7 linked regions of the Homo sapiens genome follow. The protein of the gene in region 6 interacts with the protein of the main gene of each other region in a biochemical or structural test. Each region holds a gene or a part of one and is shown on either strand. Other genes may lie near its edges.

What was found.
Region 1: the proteins of RASSF6 (region 6) and MAGI3 interact in a test that uses a peptide from one of them, tested with the Homo sapiens proteins (one large-scale study listed by IntAct).
Region 2: the proteins of RASSF6 (region 6) and MAGIX interact in a test that uses a peptide from one of them, tested with the Homo sapiens proteins (one large-scale study listed by IntAct).
Region 3: the proteins of RASSF6 (region 6) and LNX2 interact in a test that uses a peptide from one of them, tested with the Homo sapiens proteins (one large-scale study listed by IntAct).
Region 4: the proteins of RASSF6 (region 6) and CARD14 interact in a test that uses a peptide from one of them, tested with the Homo sapiens proteins (one large-scale study listed by IntAct).
Region 5: the proteins of RASSF6 (region 6) and SNTG1 interact in a test that uses a peptide from one of them, tested with the Homo sapiens proteins (one large-scale study listed by IntAct).
Region 7: the proteins of RASSF6 (region 6) and MAGI2 interact in a biophysical measurement, tested with the Homo sapiens proteins (one large-scale study listed by IntAct).

Annotation. Positions count from the first base shown.
Region 1 is NC_000001.11:113,392,984-113,397,290, forward strand, and holds part of MAGI3 (membrane-associated guanylate kinase, WW and PDZ domain-containing protein 3), read left to right. Parts: intron 1-4,307.
Region 2 is NC_000023.11:49,165,623-49,169,946, reverse strand, and holds the end of MAGIX (PDZ domain-containing protein MAGIX), read right to left. Parts: intron 3,874-4,324; coding exon 3,548-3,873; 3' UTR 1,173-3,547; downstream 1-1,172.
Region 3 is NC_000013.11:27,561,298-27,565,604, forward strand, and holds part of LNX2 (ligand of Numb protein X 2), read right to left. Parts: intron 1,485-4,307; coding exon 1,116-1,484; intron 1-1,115.
Region 4 is NC_000017.11:80,176,243-80,180,549, reverse strand, and holds part of CARD14 (caspase recruitment domain-containing protein 14), read right to left. Parts: intron 2,043-4,307; 5' UTR 1,895-2,042; intron 1,456-1,894; exon of another isoform or gene 1,447-1,455; 5' UTR 1,249-1,446; intron 1-1,248. UniProt on the Homo sapiens protein: Acts as a scaffolding protein that can activate the inflammatory transcription factor NF-kappa-B and p38/JNK MAP kinase signaling pathways.
Region 5 is NC_000008.11:50,697,600-50,701,906, forward strand, and holds part of SNTG1 (gamma-1-syntrophin), read left to right. Parts: intron 1-4,307. UniProt on the Homo sapiens protein: Adapter protein that binds to and probably organizes the subcellular localization of a variety of proteins. May link various receptors to the actin cytoskeleton and the dystrophin glycoprotein complex.
Region 6 is NC_000004.12:73,585,422-73,589,728, forward strand, and holds part of RASSF6 (ras association domain-containing protein 6), read right to left. Parts: intron 2,514-4,307; coding exon 2,419-2,513; intron 1-2,418.
Region 7 is NC_000007.14:78,123,794-78,128,100, forward strand, and holds part of MAGI2 (membrane-associated guanylate kinase, WW and PDZ domain-containing protein 2), read right to left. Parts: intron 3,624-4,307; coding exon 3,404-3,623; intron 2,045-3,403; coding exon 1,901-2,044; intron 1-1,900. UniProt on the Homo sapiens protein: Seems to act as a scaffold molecule at synaptic junctions by assembling neurotransmitter receptors and cell adhesion proteins. Plays a role in nerve growth factor (NGF)-induced recruitment of RAPGEF2 to late endosomes and neurite outgrowth.

The sequences.
Region 1 (4,307 bases), on a different chromosome or scaffold from region 6:
GGCATAGATGAGAATATAACTTATTTTTAGAAATTTTAAAGTTGATATATTGACATGGAAGCTGGTGTATTCTAAATTATTGTGATCTTTTTTAGAAGACTGAAGAGATGGCTATTTCATAACATTAGTCTAATCTACCTGTTATACATTTTTCTCAACCTCTATATTATATTTAACAATAATTCAAGATTTAGAGCATTAGTAATATTAACTGTGTTGAATAAACATCCTATGCCCCCGTATGTAGTTGACATTATTAGAGTAATACAGTTTTGCCCTCTTGACAGCCACAGACACTGTTCTATTTTAAAGATTTAGCCAAAATAAAGGGAATAACGTATTAATGGCCACAGAACATTTTGTAGTCATTAGTAATAAAGTTCTGAATACTACACTTGTTTTTTGAAGAGACACTTTGTGTCAGTAATTTCTCAAGATACCATTATGTCTGTGTTATTTGAGATTAATATTGTTTCTAAGCAGGTTGTAATTTAAAATTTTTAATCTCTTTTAAAAATAGTATTCTTAGCTTCTTAATAGCCTCATGTTAGGTATTATATTAAATGGCTTTCTTAAATGGCTTTGCTTAAAAGCAACATTTGTTATAAAATAGCAAGATTTTTGCAGGTTAAACAGACTTTAAATACTAGAAATTAAGAATTTGAAGAGGTTATCTGTAGAACTTTTGAGTTTGATTAAAAACAAATATTATTTTCAGAAGAGACAAAGATTCTTTATTGTGATTCATTTTGGAAAGGATGAAAATAGAGTAAGGGAATTTAAAAAGAAACTTGCCATAAACATTGTTTTATTTTTTGCTTTTATCTAAACTTTGTGACAGAAATTGATTTTTCAATTTAATAAGGTATTGTAAAGTGTACTTAGCACTCTCTTGTCTTGACTAGTTGCTTTTTATTAAACCATATTCATAACATGACATTTAGAGACTAGCACAGTGAAAGAGTAAAATTTAACCATTTTTGTAAGATGTAATACTAATCGGAAATGTTCTCATATTGTCTTCTGACAAAGTCCATGGCAGAAGGATGAGCTGGGTTGTAGAACATGGCTTTTGTAGCACTGATTCTTCCTAGCCTTCTTTTCACTTAGGTGCTAAGGGTCGCCCTCCCAAAGCCAGTACTATCAGCCAGGTGACTTAACATCTTTCTGGCAGCTACTGTCTTTAGCTTTGATTTTTTTTCCCTTTTTTTGTTGTTATAATCTTTAATAGAGAATTGAAAGTTACTCTTTAAAATATGGTTTCTAATCTGAAGCTTTTCCTGAATCAATTAGGTAGTTTCTTATTGTTTTAGTGTAGTACTTAGTAGTCAGTACTTTGCCCGCTTATAGAAGAATCTTTGGTTTCACCTATTGCTTGGCTCGATTAGTTACTTGTTTCTTAATTATGACCCTGTTGTTTATTTTTCTGCAAAGAGAAAAGTTGTCATTTGAGTTTGAACTTTGTCTTTTCCCAGTAGTAAAGTTGAACTTTGGACCTCTGGTGAAATTGTTTTGTGATATACTACTATGACTAGGTTTAGTTTCTTTGATTTTACTACAGAGTATATATTCTTAAACCATTTCTATTCTGATTAATATACAAGTAGTGAATTTTGTTCTGAAATTCCCCAGACTCTAATTGTGCAGAGTTTTATGCTTCTTCATACACCTTTAAGCTCATATTTCAGCAGTTTGCTTTCAGTAAGTTTCAGTAAATTATGTGTATTTTATTCCAGAGATTAAGTATCGGTACAATAAATACATGAAATCATTGTCTACTGCCATATGCACACATTACATTCAACTACCCTAAGCAAGTAGTGTATCCAGGGATGGAAATCATAGGAAACAATGTTATAGTTTGTTTAAATAAAAACCAAGTTGAAACAGTTCCTGGGTAATGTTAAAGGTAGGTAAAAGTCTTCACTGCTGACTCTTTGGGACATCCAATTTGTAAGGGAGTTTTGTTAAAATGGGCTAATTCCTAGAAATACACTTCCTGTTGGTGAAGAAACACTACTGGATGCTTTAAAATAGGAAATATTTATGTTATTCAAATAAAAATAATGCTGTGCCTTTCTTATCTCTTGAATCTTTTTGTTAGTTTTTTTTTTTTTTTTTTTTTTTTTTTTTAGTGGGATATTTAGGATTTTTGATGAGTTTTGTTTAGGTGGTTGTATTATATGAGGATGGGAAAGGTAAGAGAATTTAGAGTTAATTGTTAGCCTCCCAGGCTTACAATACATTTCTTCGTACCTTTTTTAAAACAAGAAAATCTAGAGACCTAGAGATTATTTTAGAAACAATAGAAAAAGAAGCAAGCCAAGCCCCTTTGCTAGGGAAAGTAGCATTACATTTTGATAAACCTTGAAGTTGAAAATTTCCTATTTCAAATTTTGGTAGTTTTTTTTTCTTTTTTCCCTAAAGCTCTTAATAACTCAGGGGTTCAGGTTTTGGATTCTGTTCATTGACACCTTCAATTCATATGAGTAATGGGCTTACACCTTAGCAATTGCAAGCTGATTTGCTTGCATGATATTTGATGACTTTTATTATATCATTAACATCTTTGTACTTAAAAAATATTTTCTCTCCATCATTCTCTAAGAGTACTATATCCAAATATCTCAGTATGTATATATGTATATACGTGTGTGTATATATATATTATATGCATATATGTATATGTATATACACACACACATACTTTTGTTAACTTTTCTTGTATATCATTTTCTAGTATATCATTTTGGGTACTTTATTGATCCTGCCCTCACCCCCAGACTTTTATAATTTAGTTTGTAAAACTTTATTTTCCTAGGTTGAGGCATTTTAATAATTCTTTAATTTCTTGCTATCTTACTGGTACAAACAAATACTTAACATTTGGCCATTTGATTTTTAGATGATTTTAAATTTTATTCAGTTTATTGCTAAAACTGATTTTCATGTAACATAACTCTGTGTTCCTGGGACGTATACATTATTTTTCCTCTGAGATCCTGGCACATACTTTATAAAACCTTTTGTTTTGAGAGACAAATTTTTGTGATTTTTTTTCTGCTAATTTATGTAAACTGGCGACAAAACAAATCTTCTAAATTCATTCAAGTGTCTGACTTATGAAGTCAGTGCCTAATCTTCTCAAGTGATAGTTTCATACAGAGTCTTTACTATGTAACCCCTAAGTGCTTTGTAATTTTTGGGGGGACTTAGTGTTTTGGGAGTATGTTGAAAGAGAATCTTGTTTTTATGGATTACTTCAGTATTATTTACCAATTTCAAAATCTGTGAATGTCAGGGTTGTGTGTGTGTGTGTGTGTGTGTGTGTGTGTGATTTGACAAAAGATAAGTGTTTTGGTATTGAAGACTAGAACCGTTTCGCCTTTAATAAATTATTTTTTGTCTTCTGAAATTTTGAGCAATAATTTTCTTGAAATACTACATTTTGGTAGATAGAGTGAATGCCCTGAATTTAAAACTATTGTCTAAAGTAAGAGTTTCAGAAACTTAGAAGCTGGTGTTATGAGACATGTTTGTAGGGAAAGAGGCAAATCCATTCATTGCTCTTCTAGCTAATTTTGCTAACAAAATATCTTGCTAATATTTTGTTTTTGAAGAACAACTATTATTCAGAATGTTTTCCAAGAAAAGATGCATATTTTATTTAATACAGAAAAAATAAGAAGTCCTATTACTGGCACGCATTCATTCCCTCAGCAAATACTTAGTGGTGCACCCACCAAGTGCCAGCATGGAGCTAGCACTGGCGATATAAACATGAGTCAGAAATTGTGTGTCTTCAAGAAGCTGGCAGTTTAGTGGGAGCTTAATGACTCATTGGTAAGGAATACCTGTAGTAAGGGTTTTGCCTTTTTCACTTTTCTGCCAGTGTTTAAAACTCTTTAGGTAGGTCTTAGTATGAATTTTGGTGAAAATGAGACTAACTGGCTGCATAGTGTGCTATTCGAAAAAGTAGTGGAGCTGCATTTTAGAAAGGATTTGGGTTCTCAAGTCATCACAAAAAGAGGGAAATCAAATATAAGCAAAACTGTCTTTTCAAAAAGCCCTTAAATTGTGCATAAAATACTATATTGTACTGTTTGTAGGATGAGTCCAAATGCCACTTTTCCACCCATGTTGGAACCAATTGCAGTTTTTTGGTCGAATACCAGAAGAAGTAATTTGCTTGCATTAAAAAGATATGTTTTACAAAAAAACTTTTAATTCTAAGAAATTATCCTCATCTAGGTATGTACAGTGAATTTATGGAAATTAAATGTGTACATGAAGTGAAAGAATGATTT
Region 2 (4,324 bases), on a different chromosome or scaffold from region 6:
AGTCAGCACAATCGTACATGAGGAATAGGAAAGTTTATTTCTGGGGGATTGGCAAGATGAATGGATGGCTCCTGGGGTGCAAGGCTGGGTGACATTTGTAGACACTTTGTTTGTATTTATTTATTTTTTAGTAGAGACAAGGTCTCGTTATGTTGCTCAGGCTGGTCTTGAACTCCTGACCTCAAGCAATTCTCCCGCCTTGGCCTCCCAAAGTGCTGAGATTACAGGCGTGAGCCACTGCGCCTGGCTAAGTGTGTTATTTTGAGCAAGTAATTTCCCCCAGCTCAGCCTTAATTTCTGCATCTAAGACATGCATCTCGTCTCCTGGAATCAGGATCCCAGAGGTACCCTGAGGGACACACTCTCCAGACTAGAAGTTGTTTTTATTCTCATCTCATTTGAAGTGGGGGAGAATCATAACTGGATGGCCAGGAGGATTCAACCCAAGGGCCTGCCTGCTCTCTCTGCCAACACAGGGCCCCTCAAAACTAAGGAAAGAGCTCCCCTCTTTCAGCCCCGGTTGCCGGAAGAGTGAGTGAATAGTGGAAGGGATGAAACATACTTTTCCTAGTGATGAGTATGTGCTTTCCAACTCTGTGAGGACACGTCTGAATTTCTGAAACAAGATGAACCTGGTTCCACTTCAACACCTTTGCACTTGCTATTCCCCCTGCTGTCAATGCCCTTCACTCAGTGCTTCATATACCTGGCTTCTGGTCATTCAGGTTGCAGCTCAAGAGTTATGTCTTCAAAGAGGCCAGAAGCTCACCATCATCTCCCACAATGTAACCTCCTTTTGCTAGCTTCATAGCTTCATGACTCTCACTTCTCTCTGAAATTGTCTTTTTTTTTTTTTTTTTTTTTTGAGAAGGAGTTTTGCTCTTGTTGCCCAGGCTGGAGTACAATGGCACAATCTTGGCTCACCGCAACCTCCACCTCCCGGGTTCAAGCGATTCTTCTGTCTCAGCCTCCTGAGTAGCTGAGATTACAGGCATGTGCCACCACACCAGGCTAATTTTGTATTTTTAGTAGAGATGGGGTTTCTCCATATTGGTCAGACTGGTCTCGAACTCCTGACCTCAGGTGATCCGCCTGCCTTGGCCTCCCAAAGTGTTGGGATTACAGATGTAAGCCACGAGCCTGGCCTTTTTTTTTTTTTTTTTTTTTTTTTTGAGATAAGGTCTCACTGTCACTCCAGCTAGAGTGGAATGGTGCAATCATGGCTCACTGCAGCCTTGACCTCCCAGGCTCAAGTGATCCTCCCACCTCAGTGTCCCAAGTAGTTGGGACTACAGGCATGAGCCACCACTCCCAGCTAATTTTTAAACTTTTTGTAGAGACAAGGTCTATGTTGCCCAGGCTGGTATCAAACTTGTAGGCTCAAACAATCCACCCGCCTCCGCCTCCCAAAGTACTGGGATTACAGGCACAAACCACCATGTCTGGCCTGAAGTTTTTTTTTTTTTTTTTTTTTTTTTTGAGACTGATTCTCGCTCTGTCACCCAGGCTGGAGTGCAGTGGTGCGATCTTGGCTCGCTGCAACCTCCACCTCCTGGGTTCAAGCAATTCTCTGCCTCAGCCTCCCGAGTAGCTGTGATTACAGGCACCTGCTACCACACCTGGCTAATTTTTGTATTTTCAGTAGAGACGGGGTTTCACCATCTTGGCCAGGCTGCTCTTGAACTCTTGACCTCGTGATCCACCAGCCTCGGCCTCCCAAAGTGCTGGGATTACAGGCGTGAGCCACCACGCCTGGCCTGGTTTTTTATTTATTCATTTTCTCGTCTTTTTTGTCTGACATCTGTCTACTCTCATTACATACATCAGCTACACAAAGAAATTTTATGTCTTGTTCCTCCAGCATCTCCACAGTACCTAGCACAGTGCAACATATACAGTTGGGGTTCAATTAATACTTGTCAATGCAGGTGAAATTGAGAGGACAGACTTGGGAATCAGGCCTTGATTAAATCGTGCTTTGACCCTCCTCTCTGTAGCTATCTGCACTCCCTGGGCCTCACTTTCCTCCTCTGCGAAATGGACATATTCGGATAGTTGAGTAGATGTGCAACTATTGTAGATGAAAATAAATATTGCAATAAAGCCAGTAGCAGGGATAAAACTAAGTACATGGTGGCTGGGGTTACTATTATTAGTCTCCTGGGTGTGACTGTATTTATAGACTGGGGCTCTTGAGCCCTTTGCTGACTTCTGAAGAACCACACCTCCACCAGGCTCTAAGTCAGGGGTAGCTGGAAGCCACCCTGGCACACTTCCCCACAATGTCTATCTACAGCTCTAACCACTCAAGTGTTCACCTCTTCACCCTCCAGCTCCCAGCTCTCGCAGCTTGTCTTCACCGTTCCTCTTTCCTCTCCAAGGCCACCTGGACTCTCGCATTCCGGTCCTTTAAATTCTTTCTTCCTTCCCCGTCCCCTCCCCACAGGGGCGAAAGTTGCCCATTCCGTCAGACCACAGCTTCCCTCCTGTGGGGGGATGGGGCCGAGTGCTCAGGATGTGGTGACAGCGGAGGTGACTGGACATTTCTGTCCTCTGCCAGCGCCTTCCTCGCGGCTACCCCGGTTGGAGTCCCGCTGGCCATATAAGCCCTGGCTGTAGGGCTCTGTTCCCAGGGTGAAGGAAACTCTGGGCCTCTCCCGTGCCGGGAACGCCCAGTGTGTGGCGTGTGCACACAAGCCCGGCTGCAGTTCTTCACCATGTACGGAAAATGGGGGCACGGCCCAAAGGTTCTAACAGCCTTTTTTAGCCCGGCCCGTCCAGGGGCGCTGACTCACACCTTCCCCACTCCGCCCCAAAGGGGGCTCCAGGACCCCAGCCGGTGCCCGGAGAGTGGTAGCCTACGTGCCAGCAAAAGCTGGCAGACTAGGCCGGAAGTGGGAGACCGCAGGCCTCTGGCGAAGGAAGCTGCCCTGCTTCTAGGCTTCTAGCCTTGCTATCCCGACGTCAGCTGAGGGTCTGTATGATTCCGAGACAGGACTGTGGATACACTGGTGCAGTCCTGCCACGACAGGCTCACCTCTGCATTCTCCATGCCATGCACAATAATTTATGTGTGAGACCCTGTACACCTCCAAAAAGGTGAAATTAATGAATAAGGAGAGGAGCAGGAGACGGCGAAGAGAAAAAGAAAGCACGCCAGACTGAGGACCGGCAGAAGCAAAGATAACATGTGCAAGCAGGAAAGCAGCAGCACGAAGCTCGTCAGCGATTACTCAAGCAGGATCGACCCACCTGCTCCTTTACAGAGTGGCCCGGGCAGCCCCACCCCGCCTCGAGCGCCTGGCAAGTCAAGACCGGATCGAACCATTTTATTACCTCCCCCTCCCAGAACCAGAAGCGCAGGCTAGCCGGCTGGAAGGGTCGTACCACTGACGCTGCGAGGGGAGTGTGGTCAGAGCCACTGAGCAGCGGGTGGGGGGACCAAACCAAGTGGAAGCTCTTGGGGAGGTGCCAAGTGCCCAGCGGCCACACGCGCCGGATCCAGGTTGGGCGGTAACTAGTGAGCCCCGCGCTGTCAGAGGTAGGCTCAGTGTCTCCGCCTTCCGGCTGCCATCTCCTGAGCGAGCTGCGCTGCCCCCCGGACCCCTAGGGCCCGCGAGAGCCGTTCCTCGCTGGGCACTAGCCAGGGCCCCGGGGAACCCGGGATCTGGTCGTTGGGATCCTCAGCGCGGCGCTCAGGAGGAGAAACCGTGGGGCCATCGGCGGCCGCCTCTGGACTAGGCTCCGGGCTGCCCCGGGTCTTCTTGAGCGTCGTCCGGGATGGAGGGTGCTGAACTAGGGAAGTGCTGCTGCTGCGAGACCCCGTTACCTCCGGCCCTCCAGGATCTGGGCTGCGATCTGGCCATGACGGGACTACGGATTAGATTGGGTGGTGAAGTAGGGAAGGGAAATCCAGGCCTTTGGCTGAGGATGGACAGGAGAACCCAAAGGCTGCGGGAGATGAGACCCTGACCCTTAGAGAAATCTCCCCTCCAGGCCTTCTGGGATCGGCACCACCCCTCACAACCCCGACACCTCCTTTCCCGAGACCCCTCCCCTCCTGGATCCAGAACATGCCCCTCAGAAATCATTTCCCACAATCTCCAAAGGAAATCAAACCCCGCTCATCTAGGAGCCCCTGCTCTCTCCTCTCTCATCCCACCTCCGTTGACTCCCAAACCACCGACCCTTTGTTTTTCAGAACTAGACCCCCTACCCTCTGGATCCCCATCCCATTTTCCCCCGGCTAAGATCCACTCTGCCTTCGCCTCTGAGAACTAAGACCCTTCCTTCCAAACACTTGCTTTTATCCTAGACCCCTTCC
Region 3 (4,307 bases), on a different chromosome or scaffold from region 6:
TGATCTGGCCTCTCACTTGACTCTTTTACTCAAACAGATGCTATAACTCTATTAGCTTTCTTCTTCCTCCTCCTCTTTTCTCCCCTCCCTCCCACTAATCTCCACTCTTACAAGATGAGCTGGGTTTTAGTGGTGCAGCTGCTGGCTAATACCCACAGATATAGGTCCTAATGTTGCCTTTGATTTGAGGAAATTTTAAGGCATCCAATTTCTTTAAACCTCAAGTCTATGAAATTAGACCAATATCAGAATCTCCTCTCAATACAATAAAGAGAGTTGAGACTTGAATTTTCTTATAGTCTTAAATTTTCATTGTTATTTGATTCTGTGTTGTAAACACATTCTTCAATGACTATCGGCCTACCCTACTTCCTGATCCTCAATTACATAATTCTTGGTTTCCTTTACAGTGTTTTGTTTTGCTAACTTTAAGAAAAACATCTTTTTGTTGCACCCTTATCACTGTAGAAGTTGCTCATATCATTAAATGCTATGGCATGTTGCAGAATGTATAGATCTCCTCTGGATGACTTTCCAACTTATCCATCTTCATGCTTTTATGAAAAACATGTTCTTTCTCTAATAATGACTATCCTTACTTATGTCACAAAGATGCTATGAGGACAAATTTTATCATGTATTTTAAACACTGTGAATTCCTTAGAAACAACAACAAAGCACTATAGAGATAAGAGTTATTCTTCCTCTATTTATATAGATCCTGACAGGGAGTTAAGAGACCAGGTAAGTCAGATCCTTGGTAATCACAGCTCTTTTGAGCCTCCCTTTCCTCACTTCTAAAAGGTGGACATATCATCTGCTACATCTGGCTTAATAGTAGAACCCAGGACCCAAATGAGAAATGAATGTGAAACAGTAGAGCCTACGCTCTGTAAATAACCATCCCCAAAATTCACAGGGATATAGTTTTTAGAAAAGACTATCTCCAATGAAGTTATACTAGTGTGGATTTTAAAGAATTCAGGTAGCCACACCCGATTTTCTAATGAAATATAAAATGTCCCCTGAATTCTGATGTTATTGGCCAGTGAAAACAAATACTACTATATGATCATTTCGGCCAAGCCTTTGGAATGAAGGCCAAGAGGGTTTACCTGAATAATCTGGGCAGCAAGCTCCGGAGTTCCATACTTCAGGTCGTGCCCATTGATGGCCAGCACTCGGTCATTGCTGCTTAGCCTGCCGTCCTGGGCAGCCAACCCCCCTTCCAACAGGTCAAGAATAAAAACCCCTGGCTCATCTGTCCTTCGCACCAATTTAATGCCAAGCTGTTCACCAGAGTCCCGTTTATGAAGAGCCACTTGGAAAATCTCTTCTCGTGGAGAGTTACTATCAGAATGGTTGTGTGCTCGGTTGCCAAAGCGCCTCTCTCGAAGCACAGTAAGATGCAGTGTGTTGCAGGGCTGGGAAAGGACAGCTCGGGCATAGTTATGGGACACATTGCTGATATTGTAGTTGTTGACCTAGAAAAAAAGAATTGTGACCGAAGTGTGACAACCTTTTATTTTTCCAATTTGTAGGAATGTTTATGTGACATTTCCACAGGAAACTAAGTATTGTGAGAGTGCTAAGTATGGTGAGAATGCTATACAATCATTATTTACAAAGAAAACCACATTAAAGACATTTAAAAACAGAGTTTCTAATATTAACTTACAGTGACTAGCATCAAGGAGAGAATAGTAGCTAGGATCACGGGCTTTAATGACGGTCTTGAATTAGAGTCCTAGGTACTACCATTTACTAACTGATAACTTAGGCAAATTATAGAACTTGTCTGAATGAGTCTCCTCATCTGTAAAATGTGTTTACTTCATGGGATCAGTATGAGAATGAACAGATTAACATGGGGCAAGTGCTAATGAAATAAATACTAATTCTAGTGGAACAGAAATTTAAGTTTTACTAGATTACAAATTTGCTTCTTCCAAATTAAATACACTTAAGCTAGAGAAAATAAATTGTTATTTTAAGGAAAGTAGCACATTTCAGGTATACAAACTTATTTTAGATAAGTGACTTTTACCTGAAAGAAAACCAGGTTAATTGTAATTTCACTCTAATTCTTCAGCACAGAAATATTAGGTTGGTGCAAAAGTAATTACGGTTTTTACCATTAAAAGTAAAATATAATGTATATCTAATGCATTATTCAATACTCATATAACATTTATGTATTCACCTTTATAATCTCAAAAAAAGTATAGTGACTGATCCTTGGGTATGTAACAGCACTTAGAAAATACACCTAACTTCAATTATTTCTTTAGTTACAAGAGATGAGCATGATTCTTAGCATTTATCACAATTAGAGTTCTTCTCTGAATCGGTCTGAGATGAAACCAACATCCTCTGACCATCTGTTATATGACAGGCTCTGAGTTAGGTGTTTATGATCACCTAAAATTCTTACATCTTTTTCACACAAATCCACATTAGGCAAGACTTTCCTCTTCCTATTGACTTAGGATTGATAGTTGTAAATACTATTTTGAATTTTGTTGATTTTGACCTATTAACACCTTTCAGAATTCAGTCACCAAATGCACAGATGTCACACACAAACTTGCTTTCTCCCAAGTCTGCAACATCTATTAATTTGGTAGTCATCCAAGTCCTTGGTAAAAGTATTGAATAATACAGGGTCAAGAATGGAACTTCTGAAGTTCTATTATATTTAGAAAGCAGCTTCTAAAAATCCACGCAGATATAGATTCATTAGTCAAACCACCATTTCCAACTATTTAGCTACAAAGCTACCTACCTGTAGGTTCACATTTTTCTGTCTTATATTCAGACATATCACACATATCACAAATGACTTTACAAAACGTCTGGCTAAAATCCAGCCATGTGTAAACATGCAGCCTCATAACATCTTTGTGAAGCAGGCTGGGGAATATTCTACAACTGGAAAAAGATTTTTCCTCCAGGAATGCATGGTTGCCAGTGAAATTCAGAGAAAGCAGAAACCAAATAAAATATTGTTTCTAGATTTTGTAAAAATAACATCAGCATAGCAAACTATCTCATTTTTGAGCTAAATGTATTTTTTTATCAATCAACAGCTGTAATTATTTTCCTTCAGAACTGAAAATGCCATTATTGATGACTTCATTAAACTGAAAATACTTATTCTTAATAATGTTCTAAGTTATATTACTTTTATTAATGATATTGAGGTAATTTATAATAGCAGTATTTTTTTTTCTTCAAAACTGCTCAAAGAGGCTGCATATGAAACTCTAAGAGTAGCAAAAAGCTCTAACAGCATATGGTTCTCCTTTTCAAAGAGGCTATTTAATAACATTTGTATATGTAAATAAATATATATAAATGTGGGAAAACCACCAAAGCCACACACTGCTTATGTATATGGTCTGCAAAAATGAAAATGCAAGCTAGCTCTCTGGTCTGCAAATCAACCATCTTACTGCCTCTTCGAGATTTTCAAATTGGCTCACTGTGTTATATTTATTTAGCTTATACAAAGTTGGAGGTAACCAGATAGTAAAAAATACCAATAGGCCTCTTTCCAAGTGTTTACTCTTGAATAACCATAAATAGTCCATATGTGGGAAAGGGGGGTGGCTTTACTTGGCTCCAACACACCAGTTAAAAGCCAACCAGAAGTCAGGGCCTATAATAGGAGAGACCCTTTGTGAATTCATTAATCAGATTATGTGCTCAGACTTTTCTTATCAATTTGAATCATTAAACTAGATGTAAGATTGCCATTATTGGAGTTATTAGTATACAGGTTTCCATAAACAGTAATAATGCAGTGGAATTTCTACAATGTAGACTTTATAACTGAATTAATTCCCAAAAATATGGTTGATAATTTCAGATAATTACAATCTTTTGAGGTCTAAAGATTCAGTAGTGTTAATGAACCATTCTCTAAAATAGAAACAAGCCCACTGATGAAATGTATTAGTAAAAAAACTTAAACAAATCTGTTATATTCAAAGAAATATAAATAAAAACATTTGTAACAATACTGGGCTAGTAGCAAAAAATAAGTGTACACTTACATTTCAGCTAAAAAGCCCAGAAGTGGGAGAGTCAAAGAACACTCAGTGGGCTGCAGAAAAGGACTATCTGCCCTTCCTGGTCCTGACCACCAAAGTGTCAAGATGTCTGGGAGGATGAACCTGGGAAATGAGCTGTAAGAGTCGCTCTCTGCAAAATCAAGTCAGGAGCTAGGATGTAAATAATACAAGGGGTCCTACAAGTTGTGCCAGCCTGTGCAGCTAAAGTACTAATATCATAAAATGCAGCTA
Region 4 (4,307 bases), on a different chromosome or scaffold from region 6:
GTGGTCCCTTGTTTGCAGCGGCCCAGGACAGTGACACAGAGGACTGCGCAGAGGACTCCACATGAGGGAAATGTGCTGGGGAGTGACACTGGGCACAAGTGCCTCGCAGAAGACACTTCAGGGTAGTAACGGCCAGCACGGCTCGGCTGCGGGGGGTGTGGGCTTACAAAGATGGCGAGGCAGACAGAGGGTGGACAGGTCCCCGAAAGGGCTGAGCTGCAGCTGATCTGGGGCCACCACCAGGGCTGATGTCCCAAGCCCAGGTCTGTCTGGACAGAATACACGAAGCAGGTCGCCGTTACAGCCCGGAACACCTGCTCTTCAGGGGACATGCTGGCTAGTGCAGACTCTAAGAGCTGTTGGAGGTCCTCAGCCGTCACCTGCCCAGCCTCCCATCCCAGCGAGAGATGAGCTGTGTACCCCACTGTGCCCCTGCCTGAGCCCCTCTCTGGCATCAACATGAGGCCATTAGCCCATTAATCCATCTAAATAATTTTAAAATGTTTTAAAACTGTGCACTGTTTTCAGCATATTAAAAAATCCTGCAAATAACAAATATCCACATATCTACCATGCGGATTCAACCATCTTGACATTCTGCACTTCAGGTTTCTTTTTAAGGAAATGCGAGGCAGATGGCGCCTTTTTGTTCTCTTCAGTCCCTCTTCCCTCCCTCTCTGGCCAGACATTCTAAAATCATTTAAAAATGATTTTTTTTGAGGTAGGGTCTCACTCTGTTGCCCAGGCTGGAACGCAGTAGCGTGATCGTGGCTCACTGCAGCCTTGAGCTCCCAGACCCAAGCAATCCTCCCACCTCAGCCTCTCAAGTAGCTGAGACCGCAGGCATGCGCCACCATGCCTGGCTTCTTTTTTAATTTTTGTAGAGATGGAATCTCCGTATGTTGCTCAGGCTGGTCTCGAACTTCTGGGCTCAGGTGATCTGTCTACCTCAGCCTCTGAAAGTGCTGGGATTACAGTCCAGCCTAAAAATGATATTTTAAAAATCATTTCCTACAAATGGAAGTGTGTATAAACAGTACATAGCATCTTTGCATGATACTTCGTGCAGACAGCAGCTTTACATCAACAGTGCCTTCAGTGTTAGCTGGAACTTCACAGAAACTATCGTTCTGTGCAAGGCTGTACGGCTTCTGAGGTTTCTCATACTGATACATGCAGCTTGATACATGCATGGTCCTTTAAACTGTGCACTGGATTCAATGATATGAATAACCACAGTGGACTTACGCTCCTGTGGGAGGATATCAGGTTGTGCCTAATTTTTCTCCACTGCTCACAGAGCTGCAGCCACCGCCTTTGTTAATCTCCTGGGCACAGATGGGAGCGATTCCTTACAGACCCATGAATTCCTGTGACTTGATTCTTTTCATTTGGAAGGAGAGGCTGGACCACTGGAGACAGATGCCTCTTGCAGGGATCTGTATGCTAAAAATACTTGAAAATCAGAGCAAATCAACACCTGTCATCTGAAAAATGGAAAATGGGCCGGGGCCAGTGGCTCATGCCTGTAATCCCAGCACTTTGGGAGGCCAAGGCGGGCAGATCACCTGAGGTCAGGAGTTTGAGACTAGCCTGACCAACATGGTGGAAACCCGTCTCTATTGAAAATACAAAAATTAGCCAGTCATGGTGACGGGTGCCTGTAGTCCCAGCTACTTGAGAAGCTGAGGCAGGACAATCACTTGAACCTGGGAGGCAGAGGTTGCAGTAAGCTGAGATTGCATCATTGCACTCCAGCCTGGGTGACAGAGTGAGACTCCATCTCAAAAATTAAAAGATAAAAATAAAACATGGAAAATGATCGTTGGAGAGTCGTGTGTGCAGGAGCAGCGCCAGAAGCCGTCCCAGGAGCCGGGTCTCCGGAAGTACTCACCAAGGTTCTCAGGTTTGCTTTTGCAGGAGCTCCGTGCAGCAGGGTGGGGTCCACAGTCCCCGCAGTGTCTCCAAAGCCCAGTGTGGTGCCAGCTGCCTCCTTTCTCTGCGGGCTGCTGGGTGGGACGGAGCTGGGCAGAAGGAAGAGCCTGAAGTCAAAGCAGCACCAGGTGAATTGACCGTGATTTCAAAGCCATGTGACCTGTTCCAAAACTCAAGGTTCGGTCACAACCACCGCAAGCGGCGGGGAAAAGACGTCAGACTCGGATCCGGGAAATAACTCGACGGACCTTTGACCCCTGTGGTTTTCCCAGTAACTATTGAAGCTTCCTTAGCACTTGGAAGCAGACTTCTAGAATGGACCTGGGCTTTGAACCCTAGACTACCAAGGAGAGTTGACAGGCGCAGTAGTTATCCAAAGCACCCACAGGCCTGTCTGCGGCTCCCCACAGGGCCAGGCCACTCATACCCTTCTGCTGAGTCTCCTTGCCCGGAAGGAAGAACAGCTGGAGAGGACAGTGACGGGCGCAGAGGCCGGGGTGGGCAGGTGAGGAGGAGAGGAGAACCAATCGAGGGCAGCTCTGCCTCATTCCTTCTGATCTCAGTCCTGTTTCTCACTGGAACAGGTGATTGAGGCTTGCGAGTCAGGGTGTCACTGATTGTGGCCCCCCGCAAAAGAATGCTGAAGTCTTGACCCCCAGTACCTGTAAGTAGGACCTCATTTGGGAATAAGTCTCTGCCAACGTAATCAAGTTGAGGTCATTAGGGTGGGCCCTAGTCCAGGGATGGGTGCCCTTATAACAAGAGGAGAAGGGCTGGGTGTGGTGGCTCATGCCTGTAATCCCACACTTTGAAAGGCCAAGGCGGGCAGATTGCTTGAGCTCAGGAGTTTGAGACCAGCCTGGGCAACACAGTGAGACCTTGTCTCTGCTAAAATCTGCTAAAAAAAAATTTTTTTTTTTTGAGACAGAGTCTTGCTCGTCTCCCAGGCTGCAGTGCAATGGCACAATCTTGGCTCACTGCAACCTTTGTCTCCCGGGTTCAAGCAATTCTCCTGCCTCAGCCTTCTGAGTATCTGGGATCACAGGTGCATGCCACCATGCCCAGCTAATTCTTTATTTTTAGTAGAGACAAGGTTTCACCATGTTGGCCAGGCTGGTCTCGATCTCCTGACCTCAAGTGATCCGCCTGCCTCGGCCTCCCAAAGTGCTGGGATTACAGGCATGAACCACTGCACCTGGCCTAAAAAAATTTTTTTTTTAATTAGCCAGGTGTTGTGGTGCACACCTGTAGTCGCAGCTACTTAGGAGGCTGAGGTGGGAGGATCGCTTGAGCCTGGGAGGTGTAGGTTGCAGAGCTGAGGTAGTGCCACTCCACTCCAGCCTGGACGACAGAGCAAGACCCTGTCTTAAAAAAAAAAGAAAGAAGAAGAAGAAGAGGAGGAGAAGGGCCCTAGGCCTAGACACCCCATGATCACCCCATGTTGGCAGAGGCCGAGACTGGAGTGACACGCCAAGGGTCGGTGGCAACACTAGAAACTCAAGAGAAGGCATGAAGCAGACCCTCCCTGGAGCCTTCATGGGGGTGCGGCCCTGCTCACCCCTGGAGTGTGGACTTCTGGCCTCCAGAACCATGAGCAAATACATTTCTGTTGTTTTAAGCCACCCAGTTTGTGGTAATTTATGACGGCAGCCAGAGGGAGCGTGCACAGGGGCAAAGGCGATGTGGAAATTGTCCGTCCATCTCCAGGGATGCGCTGCCAATGGGCACACTCCCACAGAAGGCTCCTGAGCTCCTGGGCCTCCACCCAGTAGAAGCCTGCGTCGCTAGAGTCTGACTCCAAGTCAGAATGATCCTCTGCCCCACTTCAGGACCAGCTATATCGTCTGTGGAGCTCAGGGCAAAATGAAAGGATGGTGCGTTTGTTTTAAAAACGTATTCAGAATTTCAAGGCAGCAATAGCGAGCAATAAAGTCAGCCCAGGGCCCCCACTCCAGCCCTGCCCTGCATCACCGAGGGGTCTTCAGGCCCCCTGTCTATCAGGATGTCAGGATGGTAGCTAAAGGTAGGGGATGTTTCCTTTACAGATGATGGAATGTCCTAAAGTTAACTGTGGCGGCGATTGCACACATCTGTGAATACACTAGAAGCATCTTAAACGGGTGAATTGTGTGCCGTATGGGTTATAGCTCTTCCTTTTTTTTTTTTTTTTTTTTTGAGACAAGGTCTTGCTCTGTTGCTCAGGCTGGAGTGCAATGGTGCAATCTCAGCTCACGGCAACATCCGTCTTCTGGGCTTAAGTGATCCTCTACCTTAGCCTCCGGAGTATCTGGGAATACAGATATGTGCCCCCATGCCAGGCTCATTTTTTTTGTTGTTGTTGTTTTTTGTAAAGAAGGGGGTCTCACTATGTT
Region 5 (4,307 bases), on a different chromosome or scaffold from region 6:
TTCTATGCTTCATTTGTTGAGGGTTTTGAGCTTGTGCTCTTATGAAGCGATGTTGAATTTTAAAAAATTCTTTTTCTGTGTCTATTGAGATGATCATATGATTTTTGGCCTTAATTCTGTTTAGGTAATGTATGACATTTATTTGTGTGCATATGTTGAATCATTCTTGCATCTCTGGTGTAAAATCAAGTTGGTCATGATGTAATATCTTTTTGATGTGTTGGATTTAGTTTGTTGAGAATTTATTGATAATTTTTATATCTGTGTTAATTAGGGATATAGGTCTGTAGTTTTATTTTTTGTTATTGTGTTTCTGGCTGACTTTGGTGTCAGGGTGATACAGGATTTGTATAATAAGTTAGGGAGAAATTCCTTTTCAGTTTTTTGAAAAGTTTCAGGAGTATTGGCACCAGTTCTTCCTTGTACATTTGCTAGAATTTGGTTGTGGATCCATCTGTTCCTGGGATTTTCTTTGTTGGGAGACTTTTCGTAGTTGGGAGATTTTTTTATTGGATTTTAAATCCAATGTTGTTATTTCTCTATTCATGGTTTTTATTTCTTCCTGATTCAATCTTAGGAAGTAGTAAGTTTTCAGGAATTTGTCCATTTCCTCTAGGTTTTCTAGTTTGTGAGCATATAAGCATAAGGGTGTGGACTCAGTACTGCTACCTTGGCCAAGAGGAGTGAGATGTGATTCTCTCTCATGCCCCCATTTTTGGTGGGGCTCACCACCTTCTCAACTTTGTCAGTAGGTTTGGCTGTTCACTTAGTTAGTGCAGTTTACTTCTAGTTGTCAACACAAGCTGCCCCAGGCCTTAGGAGTCACTGCACAGCCCAACACTATGCCTCCCAAACAAATCCCCTCCTGTACTGGTGGGGGAAGGGGGTGAAGTGAAAGATGGGGTGAGCCTGGTTCCAGCATGCCAATGGCTGGAGCCCATGCCATACTTGATTCTCGGTTCTGGCTGTGGGAACCTCTTCCCTGCTTGAGCACCAGATCCCCAGGATACTGTTAGAGCCTCTTTAATGACAAAGGCTGCCACTGCTGCTAGTTTTCAGGACTGTGCACAGCTTGCAAAGAGCTAGGATCAAGAATGGTGTTCTGTTGTAGGTTCCAAGGTCTCGGGAAGTGCATGGGACACTTCCCAGAGCAGGTACTTCTTACAGTCTCCCAGCCACATCCCAAGGTAGATCTAGGGCTTAGAAAAGTCATGGTGCTCTACCGTGGCCTGAATTATATGATTCTATAGTGGGAAATTGGACCACAGAAAGATACTCACTCACCCTCTCCCATATTGGGAATTTACTCTCTTCTCATTTTCAGCCAGTCCCACAGCCACACAGGCTGACTGTTCTTCTTTTTCTGGTCAGATTTTGGAGTTTCTTCGTGTGTTACTGTTGAACTCCTGTGTTCTCTCTTGGATAATATGTTTGTAAACAAAAAAGTTACTGAGGTGGATCTTAATCAATTAGAGATTTATTTTGCCAAGGTTGAGAACATGCCTGGGAAAAAGAAACACAAATCACAAGGAGATCTGTACCCTGTGCTTTTTTTTAAAAAGGGTTCTGGGAACTTCAATATTTAACAGGGAAAAAGCAAGCAGGAAGAGGAAGAAAGAAAAAAAGTCTGGGTAGGCAATGAGATAAGTGGTCACATTCTTGTGAGGATCTTACTAATGAGCAGAAAAGCTACATTTTACATAAAGTAAACATGAAATTACAGCTTTTTGGGAATGAAAGGAAGGCAGTTTTTTCATGACTAACTACCTAAACTTAGCCCTTTGGTATAGTGAGTTTGGGGTCCCAATATTTGATTTTGCTTTCATATGTGCAAAGTGTGATTGTCTACACACCATTGTCATTCTTCTAAGTGGATGAAGTACCCTGGAAAAGCATCTAGTCAGCCATCTTGAAAAAAAAACCTGTTGTTTCTTTGTAATATTGCTTTATAAATCTGAGAGAACTTGGAACAAATCTAACAAAATAGAAGATACTTCTGGAGAAGTGAGAAAATTGAGAAAAATGCAACTGATGAGTTCTTGATATGTTTAGCTATTATTATTATCATTACTATTATTAAATGATACTTTCCAGTTGGCAAAAAAGTATTCTGGAGGCTATTCTTTCTACTGGGGCATAAGTCAAACTATGACAAAAGAGAAATGCATGCAGAGAGCAAGCCATAGAAGGCAAGTTAGGAAATGATACGAATATTTATCTGTATTTATTTTATTGAATCAATACTGACAACAAAAATTTCCAACATTAAGTACTTCCAAGTATTAGATACTAAGCAAAGAATTAAATATAGTATCTTATTTAATCATCAGATCAATTAATTATTTCCACTTTAGTGATGAGTGAAGGAAGCTATATATATGGTAATCAACTTGACAAGGATTACCTATTAATAAATAAAAGAGAGGAGATTCAAATCAAGACAGAATTCTGAAGCTAGAACTTTTGTTCTTATCACCTTATAACAGCTCCTGCATGTGTGTTAGAGAGAGAATGAGGGTGAGAAAGAGGAATATATACATTCTTATTTAAACCTATGTGGATAATCGTGTAAATACTCCTTATTATACTAATACTTCTAGTCAATGCCAGTCTCTAAGAGTATCTTATTTAGTTTTTCAGTTAGTTATATATATATTATTACTTGCATATAACTTGATAATGACTGCAACCGTAAAGGAACACAATCTTTTGAAATGTTATAGGCAGCAAAGGTAGAAACTCTAGTAAAAGAAATCTAGTGTCAATGATTTTAGATGATTATGTTGAAAGTAGATCTTTAAAATGATTGAGCTATAGTCACTTTTCACTAAATTTCTGATAAAGGAACCCCTGCTTTTTCCAAAGTTTCTCCTCCTCCCACCCATCCACTCTTAGCCATCTAAAGCTTAGAGTCTATGCTGCCCCCTTCTCACTTAACTCTCCAATATCTTTTCCTGGCAGGTGCATTCTATGAATTTCTTAGCAGGATCACCTGGTCTTTTTCAGGCTTGCACCAGGTTGCTCTTGCATTTGTCTTTAAGTCCTTGATGGTACTACAGTCTCTCCCTACAATACAACTTTCCCCCTCCTACTTTCCCTCAAGATGATTTATCGTTCCTTATTCTGCTTCCTTAGCATGTTACCTCTATAGCACTGTCATATGCTCGTTATTTTAACATATTTCTCTCCCTCACTAAAATGAGACCTGGGTGCTCAGATGCCATTTGCAGTGTGAGTCAGTTCATGAGAAGTATATTATAAATAACAACAGGAAATGGCAAGAAGTTTTCAGAGATGCTGAAACTATATTTGCAGAGTTGATTAGAGGATGCTTTGTCTGAGAGAGAGTCACGACTTGGGTAATATAACAGAAGATCTTAAATTGAGTTTTAAAAGAGCAAAGGAGTAAAGTTTTGCTAAGAGAATAGAAAATCTTACATGAAGTCCATTTTAAGATCCTATTGCTACATGTGATTTATGAAAAGGAAAAAATAACAAAATTTTCTGACTAATAATGACATTAGATAATATTTTTTATTATAAGGAAAATGAAGGGCAATTTAATAAACCATAAAATTGGCAAGGTTTCTGGAAACTGCAACGTTTAGTTATAGATTTTTGCCAATTTATCAATTTAAAAAGCTAAGGTAGATGTTGAAATATCTGCAGTATAAAGAGAGGGCATACTAAAATTTTTGCTATAGTAGCTTGTCATTATACTGTGTTCAAGTCCAAAATTTATAACCAGATCAATCATCCCATGTCCTTCCCTAGCTTCAGCTCTCAATGTTTCTGCCTCCTTTTCTTTGAATTTCTGAAATGCCTGACTTGGCCCCAGCCAGTCCCATCCACTCTCTGGAAAGAACACCCTTTTTCTATACTTTATCTTTGATATTCTACTCGTTTTCAGCCACTGTTTAAAATTTACTTCCTAGAGAACATTTCTCTAGCTTTTCAATCTATTGTGATATAATACCTTTTTCTTCCTCTTCTTCTTCTTCTTCTTCTTCTTCTTCTTCGTGTTCCTCTTCCTCTTCTTCTTCCTCCTCTTTTTCTTCCTCTTCTTCTTCTTCCTTCTTCTTCTTCTTCTTTGCCTTCCTCTTCCTCTTCATCTTCCTCTTTTTCTTCTTCTTTTTCTTTTTCTTCTCCTTCTTCTCCTTCTTCTTCTTCTTCTTTCTCTTCCTCTTCCTCCTCCTCCTCCTCTTCTTCTTCTTCTTCTTCTCCTCCTCCTCCTCCTCCTCCTTCTCCCTCTTCTTCTTCCTCTTTTTGAGATGGAGTTTCCCTCTGGTTGCCCACGCTGGAATGCA
Region 6 (4,307 bases):
AGTGGATTTGTGTATGCTTTCATTAATTTTAGGAATATTGCTATTTTCTGGCTGTGTAAAAGCATTATAGTCCACTGCTTAGCTGCATATTTACTTATTAAATGTTGCCTGAGACTGACTCAGCAAATTCTGCCAGTATCTCATATAAAATTCTTATGTCTCATTCTTATGTTTCATAAGAAATGATCACAATGATCATGTTTGGGGTTTGGGCATTCCTTTAATCTTAATTTATTGGGGAGTGCATTTTGTGGCATTTCAGAGTGTTAGAGCTGGAATAAACCTGATACTTTATCAGGTTTGATCTCTTACAGGTAAGAAAAAGTACAGTGAGTTGAAGTGGCTTTCCTATGGACATAGTACTCATAAATGATAGAATCAGGTCTGGATCCTTATTTTTTTATTTTTATTTTTATTTTATTATTATTATACTTTAAGTTTTAGGGTAATGTGCACAATGTGCAGGTTAGTTACATATGTATACATGTGCCATGCTGGTGTGCTGCACCCATTAACTCGTCATTTAGCATTAGGTATATCTCCTAATGCTATCCCTCCCCCCTCCCCCCACCCCATTATATGTTGGCCCAAGTTCTTTGGAGCTTTTCCTAAAAAATAAACACTGGGCCTTAGTTTTCCTATAAAACTACAGAAAGCTCTTTGAGAAGCTATTTATATGGTATGTGGAGCATTGAAAGATTTTGTTCCCATCTTTTATAAAAGCAAAAGGAATAGTATGCTTTGGACTAGTCCTACTATTTGTAATATATCACATTATGTTCTTTTTAGAACATTCCAGATGTATGATATGAATGACTTTTTCACTTAGTTGTCCACTATCCTATTATTTCTTCTCATTGAGTCATGTATATTTAACAATGATTCATAATTGATTAGTCAAAATTTGGTTACTGAATTATTACAATTTCTATAGCAGATTTTAGAGTATAAAATTATAGTGTAGCGTTGAACAACTCTAGTATCTATTGAGTAGGCAGAAGGTGTTTAAATGGAATTGAATTGAGCTACAATGTGTTACTAGCCTAAGATGCAGAAGATTCAAACCTGCCTTCTGCCCCCCTTTCTGCTTGTATACAATTGATAGTACCTTTTTCAATTTCCTCTCCTATGCATATTCATATGTAAGAATAAGACCATGTGGTGGCATTTGTGTTTTATTTTACTTTAGGATTTTAAAAAATTTTCTACTGTAATTAGAACATTATCAAATAGGCATGAGATATTTCTTCCTTCTCTAGCACTGCTGTTTAAATACAAATATATTTTTATGATGTCTTTGATGCCAAGATACTGGGATTTCCTTGGGTTTCATATATATTTCTAAAAGATAATTGGAAGGGCCGATATTTAACAAGATGTAAAGATCCCATGGCATAAAGAGAAAAGGGAACCCTGGAAGGAACATCATGTTTGTCACAGGATCTGGGTTCCTGTGGAATAGCAGACGAGGCAGAATTGAGAATGATTTGAAAAAAAAAAAAAGAGAACAAACATTGCAAGTTGCTGGTAGGCTTATGAAGTTAATGCTAGTGGGATACCTTTGTTCACACTGAACTGACTTCGTAAATCACAGCCCCATTTCAGGCACATGAACCCTGTCCACCACCCCTCATTCTAGCTTCAGTCATCAGCATCCACTACTCTTTGAATCTTATGTGTTTATGAGAATTACATGAAAAAATTCATATAAAGTACAAAATATTATGCCTGATACTTACCAGAGTCTCATCAGATTACAGCTATCAATATCACTATTATTACTCTCACATCATCACCATTATGATTATAACTACTAATGTCACACATCCCTGGAGCTGGCATTTCCCATTGGTTTGCCAAGTTCAGTATGGATCCATTTGATCCTTAAGTATATTTCTCTTTTAAAAAGATCTCTGAAATAACTCTATCAAATATAAAATTGACTCCAGCATATCTGTGTCTTTCTGAGAAGTAATGTTATTGACATATCTATTAACTAACTAAAACGTTCAACTTCTAAAAAGATACAGAATTAGGTCTGATGGGCTTGGCCTAACATATAAAGCTATTGGGAATAATAAATGACTCTAATCTTTGGGGAAGATATTTAACAATTTTATGAATACAAACTTTATTAAAACTATTAGCTCTCCCTATTCTAATAAATCTAAGTGACATAATATAATTTTTTTAAGAATTATATTTTTATATACCAAAGTAAGGTTCTTAAACATCATACAAGCACTATAGTGACTTAAGTTACTATGCTCCTAAGATATTTAAAAATATATATACATATAAAACAAGAGTTTATTGTGTAGTAGTATGAAAAAGGTTAGATTTCAGAGAAACATATGGAGTCATACTTTACACTAATTAAAAATTAAGTCTCCCAATCAATAAGATTTTGATACTGACCTTCCTGGGAATTCCTTTTTTCAGACATAGGAATCTGGGTCCTGTCCAGCTCACTAATACGATAGAGATCGTCAAATTCCCCCCAGCGTGTCATTCTGAGAAGTAATAAATCTTGTAAGTACATCAGTTCCATTTATATTGAAGCCTATGATGGTTTCCAGATTTACAATATTAATATAGTAATACTGTGGGCCTCTGTAGGTGGATATATTGTCCAAAGTTATAACAATTTTATGATATTATTAAAATTATATTCATACCAAAGTGGTCAATATATGTTTTAAATGCTTCCTGTACTTTTATAGAGCATATCTTTTTGACGTAATAATTCAGTTACATACTGAAACACAAGTTATATAGATTCTGTAAAACATATGTCCAAATTGAATTAGTAGAAACCAAGATGATCAATTGTTATAAAGATATTTCACAATACTCTTAGGGGAGCTTGGGTATAAAAGTGTTCTTTATACATTCTGTCAATATGTATTGTACCTTTTGCATTCAAAACATTGTTAGGTAGAGTGGCTCTAAAATAATAAAATATAGTGCCTATCGTTTAAGGCCCTTGACTACCATGAAGAATGTAGTTTACGAAGGAGGAAAATGTATGAGAATTTTGCCAGAAAATTATGATTTCATAAAGAAACTAGCAATTTTAAGTGCATTCTAGTGCTCAGAATACATGAAACCTGACAAATGTTTATTTTTACGGCAGGTCAAAACTCAATTTTATTTTATTTATCTGGTCTTAAACAAGTTTCTTATCCCCTCTGTGCCTGTGTCCTCATCTGTAAAATAAAAATGATAATAGCATGAGGTAGGATAGGGTTGTTTTGAGGATTAAAAGAGTTAATTTGTATAAAATTCTTGAATCAGTGCCCTGAAAATAGTAAGCATTCAATATAGATTAACAATAATTATAATTATCCTCATCTCCATTGTCATCATCATCATCATCATCATCATCATCATCATCACCAGCATCTGTATCTATTTCATTCCTGATGGGCCAGGAACCATTAGGGACCCAAGGTGTTCCTGGATCTCTCTAGGCAAATGGTTGCTATTATCTAAGAATCTCTTCAGTAATGTCTGTTTTTCTTATGACTAAAATATATTCACTTATAGGGAATTTATGGCATTGACTCTGCCCGAATTTCATTGGTGGCAACAAAAAATATTTATTAATACTAATGGTAGTGAATATGAAGAAAGTCATCCCTTATCCTCTTTACTTTTGAATTCTTTTGAAGCGTGTTTTATGGCTACTATATCATTTGAGTCTCACAATAGCCTTATGATGTAGAGAAGGTAATCCTAATATATTTGTTAATTTTCCAGCAAGCTGTACTATTCAGAATACAGCCAATCAAAACAAATGTCATAAAGCCCAACTACAGGTAATAACTTTAACTCAAAGGAAAACTACCAGGTCCTGACTCAGAATCTAATTAGTCTTATGGCAGATAAAATTACCCATTTCCCCAAATCTATAGCAGCTTAATAATCAGAAAGTGGCAGACATAATTATCGTAGAAGGGGGGTTAGGAATGGAAAAGTCAATACCAATGAAAAACAGAAACTAAAAATGCAAAGTAACCTGATGCTATGTCATAGGGCTAAAGATAAGAATCCCCAGGATGCCAGTCAAATTCTCGGTGACCCTCGCAGACGTGACAGCTTAGTTTTGTCACACAAATATAGGAGGCCAAAAGTCATCCAATATATTCTGTGTTTGGCCCCTTATTTTTTTCTACCATCTACAGCAGAAAACACCAGTTTTCAGCTCTGGATTGTGTAATTTGAAGCATCACCCCATACAACTGTGCACATGACTAAGCTTCAGGGCAGTTATCCAGAGTTTTCAAGAGAAAACTGGTTGGAAC
Region 7 (4,307 bases), on a different chromosome or scaffold from region 6:
TGAAGAGCTTCCTAAAACATAGCCTGGTGACCCCACTCCTAGAGTTTCTGATTCAGCAGTTTTGGGTGGGGCTAGAGAATCTACATTTCTACCAAGTTTCCAGGTGATGCTGATGCCAGGAACCGTGCTGAGAACCATTGCTCTGGCTTAAATTCTGTAAGAAAGAGGAATCTTTTCCTGCAAGGGTATTTCTCTATTTAGGCTTCTTTGCCTTGGGAGTACTGTGTATATCCAGCAGCGAGTCATTTAGATCCCTTGTGAAAATACATGGCCACTGTTTGTAACCGACAGAGACCAGCCCTGTAGTCCACCGTGGGTCTCTATCTCTCACAGGGCTCTGGCCATTTTGCACATGGTCTTCCTACTGTGTTTCACCTGCACTGGAAAGATTAATTTTGTTTTACTTAACTGCTTGTGAGCTGGCCTTATAGCAGGTTAAGAAAGTGTCCTTCTGGCTTATAGGGAAGCTGTAGAGCCAGGAAACCATGTGGAGGCCCATCTTCAAATCAGGGCTAGACGGGGTAAGAGGAGGCTGGTGCTAGATCACGGGGAGGGCTGCCAGTCTCTGGTGTCAGCCCTGCCTGGGTTTAAATTCCAACTTGGATGCTTCCCAGCTGTCAAAGGATTGTGGTAGTGGGGAGAAACAAAGACATGATGTGCATGCCTTCTGCTTTTGGACTGTGGATAATCCTCTGACTTGGAAATGCGTATCATAGAAATGCAGACTTGGTGGTAGAAATAACAGATTCAGCCATCAGGGAAAATTGGTTGGTGAGGCTCTGCACAAGAACCTGAGGTTCCGGAACCCCAAAGCCACAGCTTTTCTTTATTAACTTAAAGAGGCAGGAGGGAGGGCAAGAATAAATTCTAGATTTTATTCATACACCGACACACACACACACACAAACACACAGAGAGAGTAAAGAGACTAATATTTTATATTGTTAACAAGCTTTGTTTTATACCCTTAAATGAAGAATCAGTTACCCATCAATCAGATGCCTCAAAGTAATTATTAAATGAAAAAATCTACTCTTAACTTTAATTGGAAAATTTCTAGCTGCTGTCTTTTTTTTTTTTTTTTCTTGAGACAGATTCTCACTCTGTTGCCCAGGCTGGAGTGCAGTGGCACGATCTTGGCTCACTGCAACCTCCGCCTCCCTGGGCTCAAGCGATTCTCCTGCCTCAGCCTCCTGAGTAGCTAGGACTACAGGCGCCCGCCACCACGCCTGGCTAATTTTTTTGTATTTTTAGTAGAGATGGGGTTTCACAGTGTTAGCCAGGTTGTTCTCCATCTCTTGACCTTGTGATCCTCCCGCCTCAGCCTCCCAAAGTGCTAGGATTACCGGTGTGAGCCACCACGCCCGGCCCCTGCTGTCATTTTTAAGAACAACCTGTATCCAAGAAGCCAAATCCCTTTTACTCCTAATGCTTCTGTCTGCCCAGTATCAAACCAAAAGACCAGTCAACACAAAGGAAAAATTTCCTAAAAGTCCCGCAAAACCATGTGATTAATCAATATGGGGGAAAAAGCACAAAACTAAAAATAAATTTCAAAAGATTCAACCTTAATCAAAACAGAATCATCAAACCATAGAAAGAATTATGGAGAAATAATGTTTCCTTTTCAAGCTATTTCTTAGATTTCTTTCATTTGCTCTTTAGAAAAATAGTACTTTACTGAGGTTAATCAATTAGAAGGTCATAAGCAGAAAAATGAGAATGAGAGATATTATAAAATAGCAAGTGGCCAGACTTTTAAGAAACTGGGTCATCATCAACTAGAAAGAGGGCAAACCTACAGCAACCCCGCTTGACAGCATGCTTCAGTACTCTTCCAATACCACAGTCGGTTTTTCTTTCAGAATTAAGCAATTCTATAAAAAGAGACTGTTCTTACCCTCATCCTCCCATTCCTTATTGCTGGTCCATCTTCTGCCAGTCTCAACACATACAAATCCATTTTGTATTCCCTTCCTCCACGAATGCTGAATCCAAATCCTTTGGCTCCTTTCTCCATGTCCACAGTGAAATAATCAAAATCCTTTGGGGTTGGGGAGAAAATGGAATAAATAATTATTTAGTTATCAGAGAAGCTTCTGTGGCTAGTCTCTGTGTTCTCCTTCTGTCTCTTAGTTAATGTATTCCAAATGACATGATGTTGGGAGAAGTCGTAATCTGGCTTCATAAACTACCCAAATGAAAGACAAAATTCCAAAGGTTTGAGCAGGCCAGAGCACAGTTTACTTGGTCATCAAAGAATTACTGTGTAGCTTGTTTACTTTGGTATTCATCAGTTTACTTGGCAAACGTGGAATGATTACAGATAGGCCTGAGTGACATCATCTCTCCTTTTACTTCTCTCATTCACTGCTATTGAGCACCATAAATAAATGTCAGGTGTGTGTGTGTGTGTGTGTGTGTGTGTGTACAAATTACAGAGTTTGCTGATTAGAAAAGTAAAATTTAGTGGGATCTGATAATTAGATCTCTCAGTTGCACAGACTATTGAATATCAAGTTGGAATGTACAAAATCAATTTCTCTTTTACCTAAAATGCAGTATGTCCAAGATTCTCTGATCTTCACTATTCTTAAAATCTTTGGGCATAAAGTTGATCTTCAATTCATAATAAAACACAATGTAATCTGATAGAGTTGAGATTGTACTTAATTTATATCTTGGTATGTAGTTACGAAGTAGGAAATATTTTCTAGATACCAAACTCTGGTCTAGACTCTTTTCATAAATGTTGAATCCTCATCCTGGCCTGTAAGGAAGACTCTCCCTTTAGGAAACTGAATCTCAGAGAAGTTAAGGAAGTTGACATGAAGCACATCAACAAATAATCATAACAACAGTGACACTGGTTGTGTAGACAGAGAGTTGTTGGCTGTGGCAGGCGCTACACTCTGGATTGTGAAGCCAAGCCTGGTCTTATTCTTACGCACAGGGGCTTGGCCCTTTATCACAGAGTGGCAGGTAGGGGGCCACGTAAAAAAATATGGACCTAAAATACCTCCACTGCTAGCATCTATAAAATTTTCTGCATTAGCAGCACTCTCAGAGGTCCCAGGTTAGAGCATTTTTAAAACTTTGACAAGGAAACGTACAAGGAGTTAGCTAGTATTAGCAGGGATTAGTTTATTCCATTACTACTCATCCGCTATTTATTTATGTATTTATCCATATTTATTTATTGTCCTGCTTTATTCTGAAATAGATTTATTTATCCAGCATGTTTCTGAGGATGCAGGTGTTACCCCGATGTTACCAGAACTAGGAATAGAACTTCAGCTCTCCATCCCAGACAGGTACTCTTTCCTCTGCCTCTCCTATTTCATTCCTTGCAGTTCTCTGGAAGCCTTGGTCAGGACCCACCCTGCTCTCCGGGAGGAGGTACCTGGGGTTGTCTGTAGTCCGACAGAGGGTACTGCCTGGTGTCGGGGGAGTGCTGCCTGTAGTCCAGTAGGGGAGGCTGCCTGTAGTCCAAGGGTGGGGGCTGCTGGTAGTCCCCTCCTGGGGGTTGCCTGTAATCCAGCGGGGGCTGCCTGTAGTCTGTGAATGGAGGCTGTCGGATGTCTGGTTTCACATCTTGCCTTGCTTTCACTTCCGACCTGTAACTAAATCAATGGAAATGGGATTTGCTTTTGTAACTCTGCATTCTAAAGAGGCTAGAGTGATCACACGGCCTCCAGAGGTGGGCCAGCCATGACAGCTCACACAAACCACTCCTCTCGGTGGTCCTGTTGGATGCTCAGGATTATGAGAAGGTTAAATATTATTTAAAAATCTCTGACAAATGCCATATTGTATGCTTTTTATTTGGCTCCTTACGAAGTCAAGGTAAAAATGATGGTTCAACCAGAACCTTGTGAAAAAGCACTCATGGATGTTCCTCTTTGACTTTGGCTATTTAAAAACTGTACAGCCACAGCAAATCAAGGGATTGAAGCACTGAACTATACAAACCAAGACATCAGCCTATCTTAAGACTGGTAAACCAACCTTCCTCTCTCACTCTTACTTTTTTCTCTCACACACACCCCTTGGCAGATCATTCATTACTTCATAAAAACATGATTGAAGTGATCTCTAAATACATTACAAATACACAATCAAAGGCTATTTTAACCTGCTGAGTTGGGTCTTTTTGAATATTTTACAGAGGTTAAAGGAGTGATGGTAAAATATAATCACCAACTACAAACCAAGTGGCAAGTCATTGGACCATTGGTAAAATTGGAAACATATTACACAGAGGTAATACTAGATCATAGCTATCAAGATTAGCATCAAATACTACT